Linked DNA regions of Homo sapiens. Changing the gene in region 2 together with the main gene of any one other region gives a genetic interaction. Each region holds a gene or a part of one and is shown on either strand. Other genes may lie near its edges.

Region 1 (7,307 bases), on a different chromosome or scaffold from region 2:
ATACTCACTTGATGGCATGGTACATGTCCTCCAGGATGTCTTGCTCAAAGTCCTTGCCTCCATTCACACCTTTCAGATTTTTGCGAAACTCCTAGAGACAGGCCAGTAAGTTTTTTCCCCTTGTGTCAACACTGAAGCCCCACCTAAGGAACTCCTGGGTTTTCAGTAAATAGGACTTAGGAAAAGGTAAGCGAAAAAACCCACTTCCCCACCCCAGTCCCTTTTCTAGGTTGGCCAGCCCTTCCTGATTCCCTTGGACAGAACCCCATCCATCATGCCCACTGGAAATCCTATGTCCTTCCTGCTACCTCCCAAGCTGTGCTGGGTCTTCTTTGCCTTGACTGGGACCCAAGCTTACCTCCAGGGTCATGGGTGCATTCTGTTTACGAACATTGTGGTTGTGCTGGTCAGTATTAAGCATGATGACAGCATAGGCCAGGGAAAAGCAGGCATCGCTATTGGCAAATGGGGAGCCATTACAATTCTGAAAAAGCAAAGATCCCGCCTGTGTCAATGCCCTTCTCTGGCCAATTAAACCCTCACTACCAACCCACTGGTCAGTGCTAGTACAGAGGAGAGGTACCATCCAGAAAGTGGCCAGTCTCTTGCCAACTCCTTAACAGAAGCTGATCTCTTTGTGGAAAGGTCACTAATTTTGCTCTCTGACTTTTTAAGAGACAGCAGGCTGGGTGCGGTGGTTCACGCTTGTAATCCCAGCACTCAGGGAGGCCGAGGTGGGCGGATCACCCGAGATCAGGAGTTCGAGACCAGCCTGACCAACATGGCAAAACCCATCTCTACTAAAAATACAAAAATTAGCCAGGCTTGGTGGCAGGTGCCTGAAATCCCAGCTACTCAGGAGGCTAAGGCAGGAGAATTGCTTGAACCCGGGGGGTGGAGGTTGCAGTGTGCTGAGACTGCGCTACTGCACTCCAGCCTGGGTGACAGAGCGAGACTCTGTCTCAAAAAAAAAAAAAAAAAAAAGAGACAGCAGCTGGATTCTTCAGCCCTCAGTCAAACTGACCTTGGATCCTGGGCTCAGCCCCTGACACTCAAACTCACCATCCAACGCTCTGTGAATGCCTCCAGCAACCTCTGGATGACTGGTGCTTCCCCAGGCAAACGGAAGGCTTCCAGGTAGAGGCGGAGGGCTTCGTCCAGTCGCAGACCCTGAAAACTGAAGGTGCTATAGGGAAAGAAAGGAAGAAGAGGCTGAAAATGTGTAAGCTGCACATGTCAGGCTCTTTTAGTCACTGTCCTCCTAACCTACTCTTACTGGAAGAGAGGAGGCTGAGGTCTCTAGTAAAGGGGCAGTATCTCCTGTTCATCCCTAACACAACCCCTAGCCTTAATACTTTTCACATCCACGGACTCTTGCCTAGAACCCTCACCCCCTGGAACCCTGCTCTACCCCTTTGGAATGGACTCCATGCAGAATGGAGGGGGCTCCCCAAACTATCTCGTTGGAGTCCCTTTCAGGTCCAATAGATATAAATGATGGGTAGAGGAAGAACATTGGCTAGGGTCTCCAGAAGAAATTTATAGAGACCGCTTTGAGGTAGGGATGTTCTGTCCCTTTAAACTGATCACTAACCATGTCCCACCTTTTTTTTTTTTGAGCCAAGGTCTCACTCTATCACAGCTCTATCACAGTGGCATGATCTCACTCTATCTCACTCTATCTCACTCTATCACAGTGGCATGATCACAGCTCACTGCAGCCTCGAACTCCCAGACTCAAGTGATCTTCCTGCCTCAGCCTCCTGAACAGCTGGGACTACAGGCACATGCCACCATGCCCAGCTAATTTTTGTATTTTTTGTAGAGACAGGGTTTCACCATGTTGCCCAGGCTGGTCTTGAACTCCTGAGCTCGAGTGATCTGCCTGCCTCAGCCTCCCAAAGTGTCAGGATTACAGGCATGAGCCACCATACCTGGCTATATCCCACATTTCTTACAGCTTCCTCACCTCACAAAGCTCTCCAACAGGTCAATGTTTTTGCGGTCACTCACAAACTCTCCAATCATCTTCTTGTCCAGCCGAGGGTTCTCTCGGAGCCACTGAGCAACCTCTGTGTTGTCCATTGGGATGGTGAGGAGGCCTTTCTCTTGCAGAAACTGAATCCCCTTCTTTGGTTTCTGATTGAACTGCTCTGTGCCAGTGATTAGCAGCTGCATGAGAAAAACTAGAGGTATAGAAGCTACTTTGCCTCTAAATTAGACAAGGCCAGCCTGGAGTCCACCATAGCCCACCCACAGTTGGTCAGCTAAAAAGCTCCTAGGATGTGGTTCTTAGTGATTACAGAACTAAGGCTAGATCATAATGGCCTTAGCTTCCCCCATCTTCATGTCTAATTGAATTGGCTTACGAGCTCTTTTTTACTCCTTTCCTGAGTGCTCAAGATACATAAAACAGTTCCTCTTCTCTAACTTAGGATTGGGGGAAAAGTAGAAGAAAGAAACTAGGTAATTCTTCTCTCCAGTTTTATATCCATCCCTGACATTTGTTGATAGCCAGCCTCTTGTTTTTAGCCTAGCTTAGCTTCTTTGGTTGCCTAGCTTAATGCCCTGGGTTTGAAAGACAAAGTGGACTAACTGTGGAGGCAACTCATATTTCTGTATGTCCAGTCACGGCCAGGTACTCAAGGGCACACATGAACCAAAGTCATTTAAGCTGGCAATAAGAGAAAGAAAGGGTTAGGTTTTTTTTTTCTTTTTCCGAGATGGAGTTTCACTCTGTTGCCCAGGCTGGAGTGCAGTGGCGTGATCTCAGCTCACTGCAACCTCTGCCTCCCAGGTTCAACTGATTCTCCTGCCTCAGTCTCCCGAGTAGCTGGGATTACAGGCATGCACCACCATGCCCAGCTAATTTTTGTATTTTTAGTAGAGACGGGGTTTCATCGTGTTAGCCAGGCTGGTCTCAAACTCCTGACCTCAGGTGATCTGCCCACCTCGATCTCCCAAAGTGCTGGGATTACAGGCGTGAGCCACTGCGCCCGGCCAGAAAGGGTTAGGTTTTCTTTGTGTTAAGAAACCCAAAGTACAGGCCAGACATGGTGGCTCACGACTGTAATCCCAGCACTTTGGGAGGCCAAGGTGGGCAGATCACGAGGTCAGGAGATCAAGACCACCCTGGCTAACACGGTGAAACCCCGTCTCTACTAAAAATACAAAAAATTAGCCAGGCATGGTGGCACACGCCTGTAGTCCCAGCTACTTGGGAGCCTGAGGCAGAAGAATTGCTTGAACCCGGTAGGTGGAGGTTGCAGTGAGCTGAGATCATGCCACTGCACTCCAGCCTAGGCAACAGAGAGAGACTCCGTCTGAAAAAAAAAAAAAAAAAAAAAAAAAGAAATCCAAAGTACAAACAGTTATTTGAACCTTACTATTTGAACCTTACTAAAGCACCAGAATGAATATCAATTTCCCTTTATTGCCAATCATCTTGCAAGAGCTGGAGATGACAGTAACCTTCAATGACCCACAAGACACCAACTCCCAAGGCTCCTGTCACTGCCACTAGTGACACTTGGCTCTCAACTGGTACAGCATTTGCGCAGGGGCATACATAGGGTATGCTCAACTACATAGCTTAGGAGTAAGGGAAGGGCTTCAAATGGGAGTTGCTGAAGTCCCAACAAGCCCAAAGACTGGCCTCAGGAAGCTGTACAATGAGGTGCTAGACTCTCCTTCATCTTCTGAGATGGAAACCCTACAACACTGGACACCCAGACAGAGGTGGACAGAGGCTGGGGAATACATGTATGTACCTTCTTTTTGTTTTTAATTTCAATTAGTTCCCGTGGATCTGGCAGGAGACAGGAAAATCGGGGTGGCTTCCGGGCAAACTTTTTGTCAGCTAGGAGTAGGAAGAAGAGGGGGGAAATATCTGTAACACCTTTTTTTACCCAGATAAGGACTTTTGGAAGGTCACCAATATACTCCCCAGTTTCAAGAAGGAGCCTCAGAAATCTTGTCCTCACCAGTCTTCCACTTCCCTGGAAGTCCTATCAACTGAGGGTCCATATGTTTGCTTCCCTCTCTCTGAGTCTGAAGGCGAGGCGGGCTACCAAGGCTTGCTTAGTTACTATCCTAGGTGTCTGCTCCCTCCCTCTGCTCTTCACCAGGCCCTCCAGGTGAGGAGCTTAGGGTCATGGACACCCAGTACCCACCCCCAGAGTCAACAGCTTCCTCCAGATCACTGCATCCTGATTTCCCATGTTCTGGTGGCAGCCGCCCTCCACCTGGCAGATGCAGGCCTGGGATGTCTGAGGCCATGCCTACAGCTTTCCCATCGCTGGCAGTTCTCTCAGCTGGTAAGAGAGAAGAAGATACGTGAAGACTTATAGGGTATGAAGCCAAGCAGAGCTGCAGGATAGATCAAATCCCAAGCCCAGAAGACCTGCATGGTTCCTGCACAGGGCGCCAGCCCTGAGCAGGACAAACCCAAGCCAAAATAAGTAGTCCCTGTCCCAGCCAAGCATTAGATTCTCTAATTTAATGAAGAGATTACCCAGTCACTTTCCCTGATCTTCTGCAACCTCAAATTTCAAGGGGGAGCTAGAGAGGACTAATTAGAGTGGAGGCAGATATTGGGGATGAGGGATGGTGGGACCTGGAGCTTTCAGAGACAGAAATCCTATATTCTTTAATCTCTGTTCTCTTCTCTTGCCATAAAGAAATAATAATTCTGTAAAAAACCAAAGTGGGGAGGAGGAAAAAGGGAGAAGGCTATGAGTTCTACTAATCTGCCTGACTGGCCTGTGATTTAAACTGCCAAAGCCCAGAAACAGAATTGGGAGCATCCCAGGGGAAGTGATATGGGGACAGGAAAAACGACTCAGAGAGTAGAGAAGGGATAAGCATAGAACACTGGGTTCATCAAAGAAAGAAATGCCTCTCACTATTGCTAGCTTCTCGGGTGCCATCTACTATCTCACAGCTTGGTCTGGCTGTCTCCTTCTTCTCTTGCTGGGTGAGGCTGTTGAGGACTTTAGCCTGGCAGTGGGCCTCGGTGCTGTCAATCACTGTCAATAGGGCATCAAGAGATAGTAGGTGTGTTGTATAGAGTTGACCAGACACAGGGAAGGCATTCTGGAAAGTAAACAGATCAATTGGACTTGTAGTTAGGAGAACACTTTACACTTTGATCATTTTCTAAAATTTCCAAAACTTCTTCTAACTTGTACATTGCCCTTAGAAAACGTCTTTCTGGCCGGGCGTGGTGGCTCATGCCTGTAATCCCAGCACTTTGGGAGGCCGAGGCGGGTGGATCACAAGGTCAGGAGATCGAGACCATCCTGGCTAACATGGTGAAACCCCGTCTCTGCTAAAAATACAAAAAATTAGCCGGGCGTGGTGGTGGGCACCTGTAGTCCCAGCTACTCGGGAGGCTGAGGCAGGAGAATGGTGTGAACCCGGGAGGTGGAGCTTGCAGTGAGCCGAGATCGCGCCACTGCACTCCAGCCTGGGCAACAGAGTGAGACTCCATCTCAAAAAAAAAAAAAAAAAAAAAAAAGAAAAGAAAAGAAAATGCCTTTCTTCTATTTCCCAGCTCTCAAGTGTTCCCCTCTCTGTATGTAACATCCTCACTACCACCAGGGAGATTTCCTTTATAATGCGTTTTTTCCTAGAAGCCAGTTATAGTGCTCAGCACCTTGGACAGCAGCTTTGTGAGTTCCTCAAAGAGGTTGGAACAGTAGTAGTCACAATCATAGTTGATGTAGAGCTCTGTGACAAAGCTGGGGATGCGCCAGAGCTGCACAATGGCCTCCAGTGCCATCTCCTTCATCTCATAAGGCATCTTGGGGTTCTCCACAGTGATGATCTCCATAAGCTTTTTGATGTACATCTGGCAATAACCCAGTAATTGCCATTTGGGTGGGGAAAGGATTCAAGATAGGAAGAGAAAAAATTAGACAGGAAAAACATTAAACAGGATGCAGAAGCCCAGCCTAGAGGCATGTATTAAGAGACACCCAAAGGTATTCCATCCCCTAAATATATCTCTTCTTTGGCCTCCATGTTGGGGGATAAGGCCTGGCTCTCTACCACATACCTGGTCCCAGACAAGTTGCCTCTTGCCCTTTTGTGCTATGTGAACATGACCTGGTCCTATTTAGAGTTCCTTTTAGCAATTTAGTGACAATGCTGGCTTGACTTACCTACCTGTGTTGCAGAGTAACTGCTGGGCAGAAGAGCTGTCCCTATTCATGGTAAGGTTACCTGGCAGTTCTCATATTTGGGGTCAGCCAGTTTCCTTTGGTCTCCTTTTAACTTTTCCACAAAAGAGGCCAGTTGATTGAACCGAACTCTGGAGGCTAAAAGGACTCTCCTATAGGAAGTCCCTAAATCCTACCCCTGTAGCATGATAGAGCTGGCCCCACTGAAGATGCCATATATCTCCCTATTTTTTTTCCCCCTTTTCTTTCCACATCAAGAAACTCACCTCCATTTGGAACTTGAGGTGCTCTCGCATGCTCTCAAACAGTAGGAAGCATACTCGCAGGGAAGCAGCATAAAGGTTTAGTCGCTCTATGCTGAGTAGCTGGAGATGAGAGCAGGGTAGGCCATGAGTTTTTTTTTTTTTTTTTTGAGGCGGAGTTTCACTCTGTTGCCCACGCTGGAGTGCAGTGGCGCAATCTCAGCTCACTGCAACCTCTGCCTCCTGGGTTTAAGATATTCTCCTTCCTCAGCCTCCCAAGAAGCTGGGATTACAGGCGCACGTCACCATGCCCAGCTAATTTGATATTTTTAGTAGAGACTGGGTTTCACCACATTGGTCAGGCTGGTCTCAATCTCCTGACCTCGTGATCCGCCCGCCTTGGCCTCCCAAAGTGCTGGGATTACAGGCGTGAGCCACTGCACCCAGCCCGGCTGTGAGGTTTCTGAAGCTGACTATGGCTCAACCAAGAGAGGCAGAAGAGGCAAACTGAGTGAAGGTGTCACTGAGGTCCATTGCTTCCAGGGAACTCTACATCTAGCCATTCCTATATTTCTCTCTGGCTGCCAGAGTCCCTGGGGAACTACTGGAACCCTCTTACTAAAACTACTAGCCAACTGGGAGGGAGATGCTTTCCTAGGTCCTATACTCTTTGCGTAATCAGCCAGACCTCCCTGTGTTCCCCTGGCCCTTGAAAGAGGCTCTGAGACCCTCTAGCAATCTTGTCTTACCTGGAATAAGTGACGGCACATCTCATCCTTGATGAGGCCCAAGAGGGTCTGGCACTGGGCTACAGGGGCTGACTCAAGGGCCACTGTCAGCAAATGCAGTCCCATGTGAATCATAACCTCTGAGTTATGGCGGT
Region 2 (6,906 bases):
CTCTTTAAGTGTGCTCATCGCCAAATCTTTCTTCCCAGTCCTCCTCCTGTACCTCCAACCTAGCCAGCTGTATTTCTGTCTCCTTTGCTGGCTCATCTTCCTCCCTAAAATAAAAGGCATTTCCTGAGGTTTTCTCATGAGCTTTCCCTTTCCCACAGCTTCACCTATTCATATTTATGCTGCCTTCTCACTGGCTCTAGTCACTCATTTCCACCCGCCTACCTCCCTCTGGATGTCCTGCCTGCACCTCCGAGTCACATGTCCAACACCAAACCCCTTACCTTTTCTTCCCTGCTCCCTTAAACCTCTTTTGTCAACTTCTGGCCACGCAGTCTCAATCTCTGGACAAGGGTACCAAGAAAGGAAGAATGCATTCACTTGCCAGGAACCTAGATTTTGCATCAAATATCTCAACTCTGTCCCCTCTGTCCTATACCACTTTACACTAAACCTCTCATCTGAACTGCTATAACACTCTCCTTTTGGTATTCTTAACTCAAGTTTTCAGTACACACTATTGCTAGAGAAACATTCCTTAGGTGTAATTTTGATCAAGCCTGGCACTCAGGATACTCTACCCAACATTTCTCAAACTTTAACGTGCATGTGAATCACACGGTGATCTTGTTAAAATGCAGATACTCTCATTCAGGGAGTGTGGGGTGGTGCCCCACTCCGGAGTTTTAACATACTCCCAAGTGACAATGATGCTATTAGCATCAGACTATATGCATATACAGTCGGCTCTAACCTATTTTTTCTATCCTCATCTACTTCTCCCTGCCTAGCATACATATGTGCATGTCTATATCGCTTACGTACACACACACACACACACACACACACACACACACACACACACAGACATACACAGAGACAAAATGTTTTCCAAACATAATCTCCGGCCTCTGTGCCTCTTGCTGTTTCCTCAAGTCCAGTGACTTTCCATTACAATTTTACCCATTTTTCAGGAACCAACTCATTCTGCCACAACCTTCTCTTATCTTCTTACCTACCCTCACTCCCATACCTCACCTAGTAGAACACCACAAAAACCTTGGGACATCCCTGACACTGGCACTGTTTCTAGTCTGTAATGTTGTTATAGGTCTTCTCGTTTCATCCGTACTGTTAGACTGCACACTCTCCTGGAAGGCAGGAACTACCTGCCTAACCTCTGCCACCCAGGGCATCCTTGGGCTCTTGTTAACCAGTAAGTACCTGTTGAAGTGGATTTGAATTCTAAGAAAAAGAAAACGTCTCAACTCTACTTCATGTAATTCATTTTGAGCAGGAGCTTCAGAAATTTATGATAAACAAAAACACTCTTCCAGGAAAACTGACTCATTAGCAAACCTAAGAAAACTTTGTTTTATATATATATATTTACAAATGTTTATATATTCAAATGGTGCCTAGAGAATTTTAGTACTTATCCTATTTATAGTAGTCTCCAGATATATAGATCAAAGTTCTAATATTAATTTAAAATTAAATCTAACTTGTTACGATCTAGTAATGACTATAAGTCTAAAATATGTTCCAATCCAGAGCCCAGCCTTCCCTAGTTTAATTTACTTAATGCTCCCTTTAGCACTCCATTTATAAAATGGGACATCACTTTCTCCACGGGTGTGATAAGATTGGCTGTCCCCCAAATTTACTGTTAACATGCCTTACATTGTGTCTAGACTTTGAAAAGTGCTTTAAAACAATCACCTTGAAGTAACATTTTTTGAATGCTGAGAAACTCAAAGAAAACCCTATATTAAATGTTTATACAGTAAACCCCTTATTCAAGAACCTAACCATGGCTCTTAGGTTCAAGAACCAATATTCAAGAATCTGACTATAGCTCTTAAACTTTAGCGTGCAAGAATTATCCGGCGTGCTTGTTAAACACGCAGATGCCAGGCTCTTACCCAGGGAATGTCTCATTCAGTAAAACTGGGGTAGGGCCTAGAAAACTGTAGATTTCACCAGCAACCCCAGGTGATTCGGATGCAGGTGTTCCGCAGATCTCAATTAGACACTGATCTCAATCCTTGTCCGGGGGCACTACAGAGTTGTGTTTGAAAGAAAATGCAGACGTCTTTTGCTAAAGTCCTTTCTCAAAACAGCTGTCACGCCAGCACAGACAGGAGGTGATGTGCGTAAGGAAAAAGAGGGAAAGGTTCCTTGGAAGAGAATCAATGCCCGAAAACAATGAAAGAGGGGAAGTGGCGTTTCTTTGCAACCCTGGAATTCCATTCTCCCGCACCTGCGAGGATGCTGCTCTGACCCGTCGGCCAGCACCAGGCCCTCGGGAGCCGAGCCCAGGCAGGTCGCTGGCCGGGGGATGGGAGGGCGTCGTGGCCCCGCGCTCGTCCCCAGGTCGCCAGCTGCCCTCCGCAGCCGAGGGAAGACGCCCGCCCGGGTCCCGGATCTCCGCCCCCCTACACCGCATCCTCCGCGGCTCGCGCGCGTAAACAAGTTGCCTCCCCCGGGTCGGCAGCCCCTCACCTGCCGCGCGGTCGCAACTCTGTCTCATCGTCTGGTTCCGGACCCCGAGGCTCCTGCTCTCCCGCGGCTGCCGGCAGCGCCTCAGCGTCCTCCACAGTCACCTCGGCCGCAGCCACGGCGCCCGCCGCCGGTACTCGCGTCGCTGAGGTGGGAGCAGCGGCCGCCCCGAGGCCGAACGCCGCCTCCGCCGTCGGCGCTGGGAGGCCACGGGCGCGCCCCGCGGCCACCGTCCTTGCCGCGAGCCCCAGCAGCAGCAGCAGCAGCAGCAGCGCCCGTACCAGCAGCCCCGGGCTGATGGCGCGCTCCATCAGCGTCCCGCCCCGCGCGCAGGCATGGAGGCGCAGCCACTGACGCCTGCCTCTCCCGCCGCTTGGAGCTCCCAAGAAGGCAAGGACGTGCTAGGGACCCTACTGCCGCCCCGACGGCCTGGACAGCCAGCCGTGTTCCCCTGGCCACGTCTCAGCCCGGCCTCTGCCGCTGCCACCTGAGTGACAGCCTATCTCGGACATCGCCCATTGAGCAAACTTTCCGCGCGTTTGCTCTCTCATTGGCTGCGGCCGCTGCCACTCCATGTTCCCAGGCTGGCCTTGTTGGGGAAGGTGGACTTTCCCTGGTGGTCAACATCGCACCTACCAATCAAATCGTAATTTCGTCGTTCGAGGCCCGTCCCTCTTCCGGACGCAATTACCAATGAGAAATGCCCTTCCCCGACGTCTTTTTACCTGATTGGTGCGCTCATCAGTTCCCGGAATACCTTTCCTACAACAGATTGGCCATCGCGGTGGTTGGCCTCGCCCCACAAAGCGAGGCGCTGGAGAAGACTTGAAGATCATTGGTGGAAGTGGATGTCCCTCAAAGGTCTGCGCTAACTGCCTCTTGATTGGTTGGAAGCGGCACTTACTACGTGGCGGATTCTGACTGTGAAGAGGACTGTCCCAAGTGAAGAGTGGGAGGCAAGTGCCTTGTGACCGGGAGGAGGTCGACCTTAAAGGAGCTGGTATTGTAGCTCTTCTAAAGCCTAGTCTACTTAGGAAGGCAAAAGCGAAGCAGCAAGAAGTGGCCACAGAAGCCGTGTGGTCCCTAGAAGTAGAAGGGTAAGGAGGATGCAGGAGATGGTCCTACTTGTGGCCGCAACGGGGCTCAGAAGTCCGCTTGTTAGAGATGGCAGTGACCTGTGACAATCCAGTCTGCCCGACACGCCTCCCGCCTCCTTAGGAACGGGAAGGAGCCCCGGCCCAGTGCACTGACGTAGTTAGCCTAAGATCACGTAGCTGGTTGGTCACAGAATCATGACTTTAATTCATGTCTTCTGACTCTGACCTGGCACGCTTTGTACCTCACCAAAGACAGTGATGAAATTGCAAAAGGGCAGAGTGGAGAAGACTGGAATGTTCAGCCAAGGCATTTGAACTTTTAATGCTGCAAGTCAAGACTTCCTGAAGATTTTTGAGCAGATGAGTGAAGTGATAAGAAAATGCATCTTCAGCAGTGACAGCATCAACGAGGAGGAGACTGGCCGGGAGGCTATTACCCGCATCAAAACCAGTGAACATTAAAAAAAATTTTTTTTTTAGAGAGAGGGTCTTGCTCTTTTGCCCAGGCTGGAGTGCAGTGGCTTGACCATAGTTCTCTATAACCTTGAATTCCTGCGTTCAAGCGATCTTCCTTCCTCAGCTTCCGGAGTAGCTGGGACTACAGATGCGTGCCACCATGCCAGGCCAATTTTTAATTTTGTTTTGTAAAGATGGGGTTTCTGTGTTGCCCAGGTTGGTCTCAAATTCCTGGCCTCAAGCCATCCTCCCGCCTCAGCCTCCCAAAGTGCTGCAATTTACGGGCATTAGCCACCGCACCTGGTCCAAAACCGGTGAAGATTTGTTAAGGTGTTGGCAATATGGGTATACCTAGATTATCCTTCATCTGCTAAAAACATGCTCTAATCTCTCCCCAGCCCAAAACAAACAAGAAACCTCTCTTCCCCTTCCAGCTCCTACCACGTGTCTTTGCTCCTCTGTATGGCAAAACTCAAGTGTTCAAAATTCCTTATCTTCAATTCCTCTTCTCCCATTCCCAAGTACACTACAGTCAGGCATTCACACCACCAAAACTGCTCTCGCTGAGGCCACCAGTGCTGTATTCAAAGGATAATCTTTGTTTTATCAGCTGTATTTGATCCAGCAACTCAAGTTTTTCCTGTCTAGAACACCTTTCACCGGTCTTCTTGCTTCTCCATAGTGCTGGTCGTAACCCTCAAAAGGTCCCCCAGTTCACTCAGGATAAAAGTCAAGTCCTTAAAATAGACTACAGGGTGCTACAGCATCTGGTTCCTATGGCTTTTCTGATCTCATTTCATACTGTCTTTGCTCACTCCACTGGGCCAATCAAGACCCACCTGGGGGGTTTTCCTTTGTTGTTTTGCCTGCCTAGGAAACTTCCCAGGTATATGAGTTTGCTAGAGTTGCCCTAACAAATACCACAGACCAGGTGGCCTGAACAAAACTAGTTTATTTTCTCGAAGTTCTGGAGGCTAGAAGTCCAAGATCAAGGTGGGATTCTGAGGCCTCTCTCCTTGGCTTGCCGATGACAGCCCTCTTACTTCCTCTTCCCTCTGATGTCTCTTCCTATTCTTCTAACACCAGTCAGATTGGAGTGTGGGGCTACCTTTAACAGCCTCATTTTAACTTAATCACTGCTTTAAAGATCTTATCTCCAAATACAGTATAGTTATATTCTGAAGCACTAAAGGTTGGGACTTCAACATGTAAATTTTGGAGGGACACAATTTAGCACATAATACCCAGGTACCCACAAGATATGTTCCCTCACTTTATTTGAGGCTTTGCTAATCCCAGTGAAGTCCCTCCTCACTACCTTATTTAAAATTAAAACCTCCACCACCTTCCTTCCTTTATTTCTCTCCTGCTTTATTTCTGCTTAGCCGATACATACATTACAAATATGTAAATACTGTAATTTACATATTTGTTTTGTTTATTGTCTGCTGTGTTTCCTTCCACTTGCATGTAAATTCTGTGAAGATTTGCTCATTGATGTATTCGAAGACATAAAACAGTGCAAAGTGTTTAGCAAGCATTTAATAAATGTTTGTTGAATGAATGAATGAATGAATGAATACCTGAGGACAGAAGGAAAGAGACAACTGGAAAGGAAGAGACTGCAGTTGCTGTAGACAGAGGGGGTTGATTACGAGAGCAAGATTCCAGAGTATCTGGAGGAAAAGGGGCAGCTCTGCCTTCCATGTTGAAAGTAGAGCGTAGGAGGTATTCCTAGAGAGTAAGTTATTTTGAAAAGTAGAGAAAATAGATGAGCGAACTCAAACCAATTGACCATTATCTACTCAACAAAATAGGAGATAAAATTGCCCACCTAAAAGGGATTATACTAGTTGGTATGAGGAAGGTGTCAGAAAATTAACATAAGATGAAAAATGATTGTTAACTACCTGTTTGAAATTAGTGTATATATTTTAGTGGGCCTGGTCTTCATGGTTTTGTAATTTTTTCAAAAAATGATCATGGCATGAACAAGGCTATTAATCTGAACTAATGAATTAGGAGTCTACTTGCCACCTGTAAATACTGTGGAAGTTTTATTTATTCATTTAACATTCAGGGATTCCACATGACCACCTGCAAATAATGAGAATAAAGATATGAACAAAATAGATGTGGTTCCCGCCCTTCTGAAGGTTAACACCTATCTAGTTAGGGAGACAGACATTAACAATCACACATATATTATTAAAACTGAGATAAGTGCTATGATGAAAAAGGCGCGGGCAGAAGAGCACAGTGGTGGAAAATGCCAGTAAGGAGAGTCAAGCTTTATACTTGGGAACAAAACACAAATTTTCCATTTTGGAAAAAAAGCCTGAGTCGAAGTGTGCTGACTGGGAAAATAAATTAAGGAGAGAAAAGAGAGTCTACCTGCTTTAGGACAGCATGGAGCTTCACAGTGACTTTGTGGGAACTCTGGAACCTGGGTGCCTCAGGGAAATGTAAGAAAGTGGGGACCGGGCATGAGAGCTGGCCCGTGAGGCTGGGCCAGGAAAAGAAGCTGGTGCTCAGGTACCCTGAGCCAGGGTTGCCCAAAACAACCAAGATTCTACAACTGAGTGTGGCCCAAAAAATCAGCAAAATAGGTCTGAGATTTAGAAACAGTGAGTTCAATCCCTTAACAGAGAGAGACTGCATCTGTTGAAATGATATTTGATTGTGAATAACAAAAACGTTGCCATATAGTGGGTGAAGCAAGAAGTGGGTTTTTTTTTTTTACTGACACCACAGCTCTACAGTGATGTTTTATTTAAACTTATGCTCCTTCTGTTTCTCCATGCTTCATGGGTGACTTTGTTCCTTTTGCCTGTCGTCTCACTGTTTTGGGATG
Region 3 (8,280 bases), on a different chromosome or scaffold from region 2:
GACAAACCATTAGCAAAGAAATGAAATAACTTCCTTATCTGTAACATGAGAATACTAAAGCAGATACTACTAAAGTTTTCTTTCTATTCCAAAAATTCGATCTCATCTAGTGCTTTAGACTTCACTCTTTCAAACGCCTTTGAGAAGGGAGGGTGCCAAAAGACTCAAACTTTCAATTCATGATATATACTTTCTGTCTCTGGATGACAATTAACAGAAAAATCTAGAAGAAAACAAAGGCAAATATTTCAAAATCAGAAAAACACTAGGTTATCTCTTCCCCATCCTGTGCCACTCTTAGTTCCACATTCACTTCTCTCATAACCATTCTCCTTCATTTCTTTTTTTAAAAGTGAATTGTATTGTATATATTTGATGTTTACAACATAGTATTATGAGATATACACACATAAAATGGTTACAATAGTGAAGCAGATTAATAAGAGTGAAGCAGATTAATATATCTATCATCTCACATAATTACTTTTTGTGTGACAAGAGCAGCTAAAACCTACCTATTTAACAAAAATCCTTAATACAACACAATTTTATTAAGCCTCAGGCCTAGCAGTAGCACCATTTGCCTTTCAGAGAACTATGAGATTAGTGAATCCAGACACAATTTATTTGGGAAAACAGGGGCTAACGGTTTGCTAATTCAAGTCAGAGTTCTTACCTTTATATCCCTATCACCAAATCCAGTGTCAAATACATAGCAGACACCTAATTTAACTCCTCTATATAATTTATTACACCAGTGGTTCTCAAGTGTGGTCATCCAGGGTCTTTCTAGAAACGCAAAATTTCAGGTCCCATCAAGACCTAATGAATCAAACTCTGTAAGTGGGGTACAGCACTCTGTTTTAAAAAGCCCTCCATGTGCGATTCTGATGCACACTCAAGTTTGAGAACCACTGTATTAAACCTCCCAGGAAATAACCTTCTTGTTAATTACAAAAAAAAAAAAAAAAAAAAAGTGCTGATTTTTTTTCTCAGCTGCCATCACTTAAAAGTGCTTGGACTCACATGATGTTGTCAACTACTTAACTTCTGTCTCCAGCGTGCACACAAAATGAACTTTAGTAAAACCTTTGGAGCCTCAGTTCCCTGGTCTGTAAAGTAGGAATGAATACCACACGCTTTCGTGAATAAGATATGGCTTACAGAAAGGCTCCTTTCTTTCCTTTTTCTGTTACCTGTACTAAGTCCCTGCTATTTTACACAGACAATGGTCCTAAAGAAGACACTCTGGCACTCCTCTGAGAAATGTCACCAGTGCCTCCTACACAGAAAAGCTCTCAAATGTGGTTTTCTTATGGAAAATACCACAGGAGGGAAATGAAGAGTTAAGAGTCCTTACAGACTCATATACAGAACAGCAATTCTAAAAAGTAGTGGGAAAAGCAATCATTCAAAATTGTGCATCTCTGTAACTTAAAAAAAAAAATCACCATTAAACAGAACATAGGCAACTTTCTCTTAAGTGTCCAAAATAAATTATTAATGATAACTGGAGATAAATACTACAGATGAGGGATGGTGGGGTGCGGGGGCAGGAGGAATGAAGCTTTTGAAAATGCAAAAGAACTAGAATATATGACCCATATTAAAGTGGTACAGACCTTCAAATTCCAATCCCCTAGATTTTTCTGGGGGCAGCCTCACTGTCAAATTCTTTGTCCCAATGTTGCCACACTACGTGTTCTGATTTGGGGTTCAAAAAATATGGTTACCAGGGGAAGCAAAAGCAAAAGCCCATTGCTATGGGTGACACCTAAAAACTGGGGAGTACTACTTTAAAAAAAAAAGTTGAGAACTTTCAGAAGAATTCACTATAAACAATTCCCAATTTTTAGTTCCTCGCTCCCTTTGAATGGAATACTCAAAGGTTTAATTTGACCTCCTTGACAACTAGCCCTTTTTATGGGGATGAAAATAGATCAGTGCATGTGATGTGTCATTACACTCGAATATTTCGCACAGTAACCGCGCCAGAAGCATTCGTTAAATCGGCACTATCAACTTTAATTCTTACTCCTCCCCGCTGCCATCTAAGATAGGACAGCCCTCTATTTTCGCTATTCTGGAGTAGCCAACATTCCAGTCTGCAGGACTGAAGTGAAATTTAATCGTTCGTATCTTTTTAAGGGAACCTTTTTACAGCGAACTTGGAAAAGTAATGCCAGCCATACGTTGAATGACACCATGTTGGGAGTTGTAAAACCACAAACTCAGTGCCTGGCCGTCCGGGAGATGGAATTCCAACAGCGGCTCCTCATTGCACCAAACTAACAATTTCTCTACACGACAGTGCATCTTAATGGGGATGGTTACACACTTTTTAAATAGTCAACACTGTCCCCTCCAACTCCCAGCCGGACATGACACTCCTTCCCCACCCAAGAACTCCAGAGCGAAGGAAGTCTTTTGGCCACCTTAGTGCCTCCTCCCAGCCAGCACCAATGACTGACAGTGTCCCCAGGCGCCCAGCGAGGGTCCCAAGCGAGGCCAGGACCCAAAGGCTGCCCAAGTCTCCGCGTCCCAGGACTTCCTGAAGTCGTAGCCCGGTGCCCCCGCACCCCGCCTCCTCCGACTCCTGCGGCCCGGTTCCTTAGTCCAAACCCGCTGTCCCGGCCCCGCGGCCCGCCAGTCCCCTCGATTCTTCCCCAGACAAACCCGGAACCGGGCGCGGGCTCAGGCCCAAGCCAGGCCGCGGGCTCCCCCAGCGCTCGCCCCACCTCCCGAGCCGCTCCGGGACAGGCGCCCGGGCGCAGACGGGAAAGCGCGGGGGGCCTGGTCCGGGAGCCCACTTCCTGGCCGGGGCAGGGCAGGACTCACCTTCGTACTGCAGATCCACCAGGACTAGCAGGAAGGGGAATACCGAGCCCAGCCGGCTGGTCACGGAGCCGGGGGCCACCATGTCCGAGGGCTCGCGAGTGAAGAGGAGGAAAGGTGTGTGGCCCACCAGCACGCGCCGGCGCTCCGGCAGCAGCTGCGCCCGCCCGCCGTCGGCTCTCGCTCAGGCCTCAGTGGCTCTGGAGCCCAGCAGAGGAAGGCAGCGGTGGGCGGGGCCCGGGCGACGCTACGCCCCAGAGCGCCGCCGCCATCCAATCGCCTTCTTTCTGGCGGCTTTCCTCCCGGGCTCGCCGGGGTCGTGGTTCGCGCTGATAGGCTGCGGAGGCCGCCGCCCCGCCCCGTCCCTGATAGGATAACGTGGAAGCACGAGACGAGGCTGCGCCCGCCGGTCGCAGAGCTGTCAGCAAGCTCCAAACCGCGGCTGCCGCCCGGAGGGAAGCAGACGGGGAGTCGGTGGCGGCCGCCGAGTCCGCATGCGCAGGCTGCAAAGGCCCTTTTGGGCCGGTCCCGCCGCGCTAGGTTGGCGAGTGGGACTATTTGATCCTTTCCAGGTTCGCCAGCGTGGTGTTACGAGAGGAAAGCGCAGCCGCAGCGTACGAATGGGAAGGCCAAACACGGTCCCGGGGAGTCTGAGGGAAGCTGCAGGGCGCCTGGAATTGGGGTCTCGAGTGAGCCGGTAAAAACCGCCTCCCGCTGAGCGTCCCGGAACAAATACTGTCTGAACTGAGCCGTAAGCAAGAAACGGTCAGGAGAAGCTGGGGCGATCTGATGATTAGAACATTTCAGGGACTACCAGAGAGAAGTGCGTAATTGCTCTAAGGCAGGTAGGTAATTGGCCTGGAAACTTGGGAACGCCCCGCCCCCCACCCCGACTTTCAGCAAACCACCGTGCCCAGGAAAAAGAGCGATTGTGGAAGACCCTGTGAAGAAGAGACCAGGAAGGCACTGTGGCTTAAGAGAGCAAGGCGTTCCTGAATGCAGCCAACATCAACTGGTAAACAAAAAACTGTGAGAACGGATCCTGAATCTTGCGCTTACCAGGGGAAATTCAGGAGAGATATGAACCTGAGCAAGATGAGGTTGAAGTTACTCAATGCGGCATTAAGCCTGTTCACGGCCACTTCCTCCGGCGTCACCAACACACACACTGTACACCAGCAGTATTTTTACACGGGGTATGTGTGTTAAGTACTATCAGGTGGATAATTATTACTTCACCTGTATTTGCTGCCTTGATACCATTAGAGAAACTCATGAATTATAAATAGCATAGTGAATTTGTGATTCCCTGAAGATATACTAAGGTGGACTTTTAAAAAGGCTTCTATTCCAAAGGGAACTAATATGGAGGAAATGGTTTCGAGAAAGAAAAAAGAAAAAACGGAGTCCTTGATTAGTTGTGGGGAAGGCAACATAATGTAATGTGAAGAATAAAGGAGTCAGATCCAGGAAACCCCATAACTATTATGTAAGTTATCTTCATCTGTAAAGTGGTTAGGATCCTGATAGTCTCAAAGGTTTGTTTTGAGGTTTCATGAAGCAGATAAATATTCTTGTAAATTGTAGAATGTTATACCAGTGTTACTCATTATTCTAACAAGAGCAGAGTAGTGAAGAGAGGCTCCTTCAGAAATTCCTTGGGATTTTTTTTTTTTTGGCTTCTGTTTTTTTATATCACAAGGTAGTGTCTCTGAAAAATGGTAGATGATTTCAATGTCCACAAATATGCAGGTGTAGACATTCAATTGAGGTACTGTACCCAAGGCAGCCAGCAAAATGCTGAACATAGAAAATAACTTTGTAAACAAAATGCAATATTTCTAGACAGTGAGTTATCACCAGTGTGCTGCCTATGACCCTGGCCTTAAGGAAAAAGTAGCAGAGCTGAAGAAGTTCTAAGGATGGAAATTAAAAATTATTAAGGAGATAATAGACTTCGTGTTATAGGAAATAAAAATAGCAAGGGTCTTCAATGGTGAGTGATTTTGAGATTAATTACATAACTATGAATTCTGTAATATTAGAACTAAGCTTTACAAAGCATTCCTTAAAAAAAGATAATTTTACAACAAAGGTAACATTAGACAGAAAAAAATGTACAAAACTAAAATTAAGTGATTAATGCTTGGGAATGTTTCCTCCAATGTTCATCTAGTCATGGTTTTCACGAATCACTCTTGCCAATAAAACCGAAAATCAAAGTAATCTAGTGAGTGTAAGAAAAGTTACTGTAAATATGTTTGCATTCGTCAGACTCTATGGAGTCTTTTTGAAGTTAAACATTAAATCTCCACTGTAATTCATACTGTTAATTATAGTAGCAAAAGACTTAAAAAACAATGGTAGCATATTTATGATATATCCAAAATTAAGAGTATTATGCAATTTTTATTAGGTTGATCTATGTTTATTGACTAGGAAAAACAATGTTGGTAGAGAGGAGTGAACAGATCTAGAACATATTTTGTAGGTAAAGGGAATAAGATTTGTTTAGGAATTAACTATGAGGAGAAATAAATGTTCAGAAACAAGTAGAGCACTTATAAACACCTTTTTGTGCCAAATTAAGAACAAAAAAGTCAGCATTAAGTTAATGCCACCATATACATCCTTCCACATTTATGTTTACAAACTTGTGCTTTTATTTCTAGGAAACATTTCTAGGCTGGGCGCAGTGGCTCACACCTGTAATGCTAGCGCTTTGGGAAGCCAAGATGGGAGGATTATTTGAGGCCGGGAGTTTGCGACCAGCCTGAGCAACATAGCAGGATCCTGTCTCTGCAAAAAAATTTAAAACTAGCCAGGTGCGGTGGCTCGTGCCTGTTGCCCTAGCTACTCAGGGAGACTGAGGCAGAGGATTGCTTCAACCCAGGAGTTTGAGGTTGCAGTGAGCTAAGATCATGTCACTGCACTCCAGACTGAGCAACAGAGTGACACTTTATAAAAAAAAAAAAAAAAAAAACTAGGTTTTTGAACTTGCTTAATCAAAGAATTTGTTTAAACTTTTAAGATGCGTTGTCAGATTATCTTTCCCTAAAGGAATAATTTCTATTCCTATCAGCTGTTTATATTCCTGCCTAGTCACCATCACTAGATATAATTGATTTTCAGTTTTTGCCAATCTGAGGAACAAAAAATGACCCTTATATGTCAAATTTACAGTTTATTTTCAAGGATTTTGGGATTCTGATCAAATTTTGGTACCTTCATATAAAATTTGGCTTTTATATCACATCTTGTCTTCTCTGCTTTCCACCCTCTTTTATGTTGTTTTTTGGCTTCTGGCCGCATGACTATAATCTCCGCTTTTGTATTCACATCACCTTCTGTCATTTTTGACCTTGCCTCCGTCTTACAAGGATCCTTGTAATTAATTATATTGGGCCTGCTGAGATAATCCAGGATATTCTTCCTACTCAAGTTCCTCAATTTAATCACATCTGCAAAAACTGCCTTTTGCTATAGAACAATGACAGGAGATTAGAATGTAAACATATTTGGGGGACCGTTATTCAGCTTAACACAATACGTCCCCCTTCATCAGGTGGAGCTTATTTTCCCTCCTTCCTTGAGTGTGGGCTGGACTTAGTGACTAACTTCCAAAGAACAGAGTATGGAAAGGGAGGAGGAGAGTAACTTCATAGTACAGAAACCTGGAAACACTGTCTTGGCCAGGTGGTCAAAGTTAATATCATCAAGTCATGTTGATAGCATATACTCCCAATATACTGTGATGAGAAGGGCAATTCACCTCTGTGGTATTCTCAAAACCTATAACCCAATCTAGTCTAAACATGAAAAAAAAAAAATCAAACTAAAATTGAAGGACATTCTATAAAACACCTGATCAGTATTCCTCAAAACTATCAACGTCGTGGGGAACAAGGAAAGATTGAAATACTGTAACAGACCAGAGGAAACTAAGGAAACTTAATTGATGACTGAATGCAGTGTGCTGTGTTGAACTGGATCCTAGAGAAAATAGACATTAGTGGAAAAACTACTGAAATATGAATAGTCTCAAGTTTAATAGTAGTGTACCATTATTACTTTCTTAGTTTTGACAAATGTACCATGGTTATGCAAGATGCTAACAATACAGAAAAATAAGGGGTATTTGGGACCTCCCTGTATTATCCTTATGCCCTTACTTGAAAGTTGTTTCAGCAATAGAAGTTTATTTAAAATATTGTGAAGGGCCTGAGTATTTTTAAATCAACTGCAGTGACTCTCTTTTGTGTATTTGTGTACAGATGAGTTTTTCTGCATCGAATTTTATCTCCTTTCCTTGCAGAAGAAAGAGAATTAGCCCTTTACAGAGATAACAGTTGCCTAAGCCAGCTCTTTTCTCCTCTTTTTGATGTTCTTCTTTTTCTCTCAGTTTGAAAATTGTAGGTTATTTGAGTTTTTAAAATGTCTATTGCTACATACACATTCTAGTTATATTCTAGTCCAAACAATCTAGTAAAATATCTAAAAGAAAAATGCTGTTCACTGTATTTTTTATTTTTAAAATGTGAGTGAGTGCATTTAAATAATAGGTTGTGTTATTATAATTATGAGCTAAAAGTTTTGAAGTGTGATTTAAAGAGTCTTTAACATTACAATTCTGGACTACAAAGTGTAAAAATTGTATTTTAAAAGATTCATGTACTGTTTCCGATAAATAGATGAATCTTTGATCACTGGAATGTGTTAATACTAATTTAAAGGCAGCTATATATCTTCTGATTTTATAAGAAATTAACTAAGTACAATATTATATTTTATATACAATGGGTAAACTCTTCAAAATTTAAGCTTTCTAATTTCTAAATTAAGTGACATAATGACATGTCTTTAAATAGGTTTGATCTTATAAAATTTTTGTAATAACACAAATATAAGAACTTATTATTTTCCAGATTCTCACATCTAAATCCAAACATATAAACACAATTGCATTAAATATAAATGTTATAAACACAATAATTAAACGACATAATCAAAATGGATTTTGAAAATAACATGAGGAAGACAGAGCAAGATAGCCAAATAGAAGCCTCCACCGATCATCATCCCCACAGGAACACCAACTTTGACAACTATTTACACAAAAAAAGCACCTTCATAAGAACCAAAAATCAGGCGAACAATCACAGTACCTGGTTTTAACTGCATATTGCTGACAGAGGCGTTGAAGAGAGTAGGAAAGGCAGTCTTGAATTGCCAACATCACCCCTCCCCTATCCCCTGGCAGTGACTGTGTGGCACTGAGAGAGAATTTGTACATTTGTGGAAGGAGAAAGGACAGTAATTATGGGCCTTTGCCTTGAAACTTAGTGCTGCCAACACCCATGGAGGGAGCATTTAGATCAGCTTTAGCCAGAGGGGAATCGTCCGTTCCAGCAGTCAGAACTTCAGTTTTGGCAAACCTCACCACCG

The links.
Region 1: changes in EIF2AK3 (region 2) and GBF1 together harm fitness less than expected from each alone (positive genetic interaction), as found in Homo sapiens cells (one study listed by BioGRID).
Region 3: of EIF2AK3 (region 2) and DNAJC3, changing one suppresses a phenotype caused by changing the other (phenotypic suppression), as found in Homo sapiens cells (one study listed by BioGRID).

The regions. Positions count from the first base shown.
Region 1 is NC_000010.11:102,360,262-102,367,568, reverse strand, and holds part of GBF1 (Golgi-specific brefeldin A-resistance guanine nucleotide exchange factor 1), read right to left. Parts: coding exon 7,174-7,307; intron 6,548-7,173; coding exon 6,449-6,547; intron 5,852-6,448; coding exon 5,657-5,851; intron 5,095-5,656; coding exon 4,905-5,094; intron 4,314-4,904; coding exon 4,173-4,313; intron 3,860-4,172; coding exon 3,771-3,859; intron 2,173-3,770; coding exon 1,970-2,172; intron 1,187-1,969; coding exon 1,063-1,186; intron 485-1,062; coding exon 359-484; intron 92-358; coding exon 9-91; intron 1-8. UniProt on the Homo sapiens protein: Guanine-nucleotide exchange factor (GEF) for members of the Arf family of small GTPases involved in trafficking in the early secretory pathway; its GEF activity initiates the coating of nascent vesicles via the localized generation of activated ARFs through replacement of GDP with GTP.
Region 2 is NC_000002.12:88,624,465-88,631,370, forward strand, and holds the start of EIF2AK3 (eukaryotic translation initiation factor 2-alpha kinase 3 isoform 1 precursor), read right to left. Parts: upstream 3,001-6,906; 5' UTR 2,811-3,000; coding exon 2,503-2,810; intron 466-2,502; exon of another isoform or gene 282-465; intron 1-281. UniProt on the Homo sapiens protein: Metabolic-stress sensing protein kinase that phosphorylates the alpha subunit of eukaryotic translation initiation factor 2 (EIF2S1/eIF-2-alpha) in response to various stress, such as unfolded protein response (UPR).
Region 3 is NC_000013.11:95,671,896-95,680,175, reverse strand, and holds the start of DNAJC3 (dnaJ homolog subfamily C member 3 precursor), read right to left. Parts: upstream 3,038-8,280; 5' UTR 2,921-3,037; coding exon 2,839-2,920; intron 1-2,838. UniProt on the Homo sapiens protein: Involved in the unfolded protein response (UPR) during endoplasmic reticulum (ER) stress.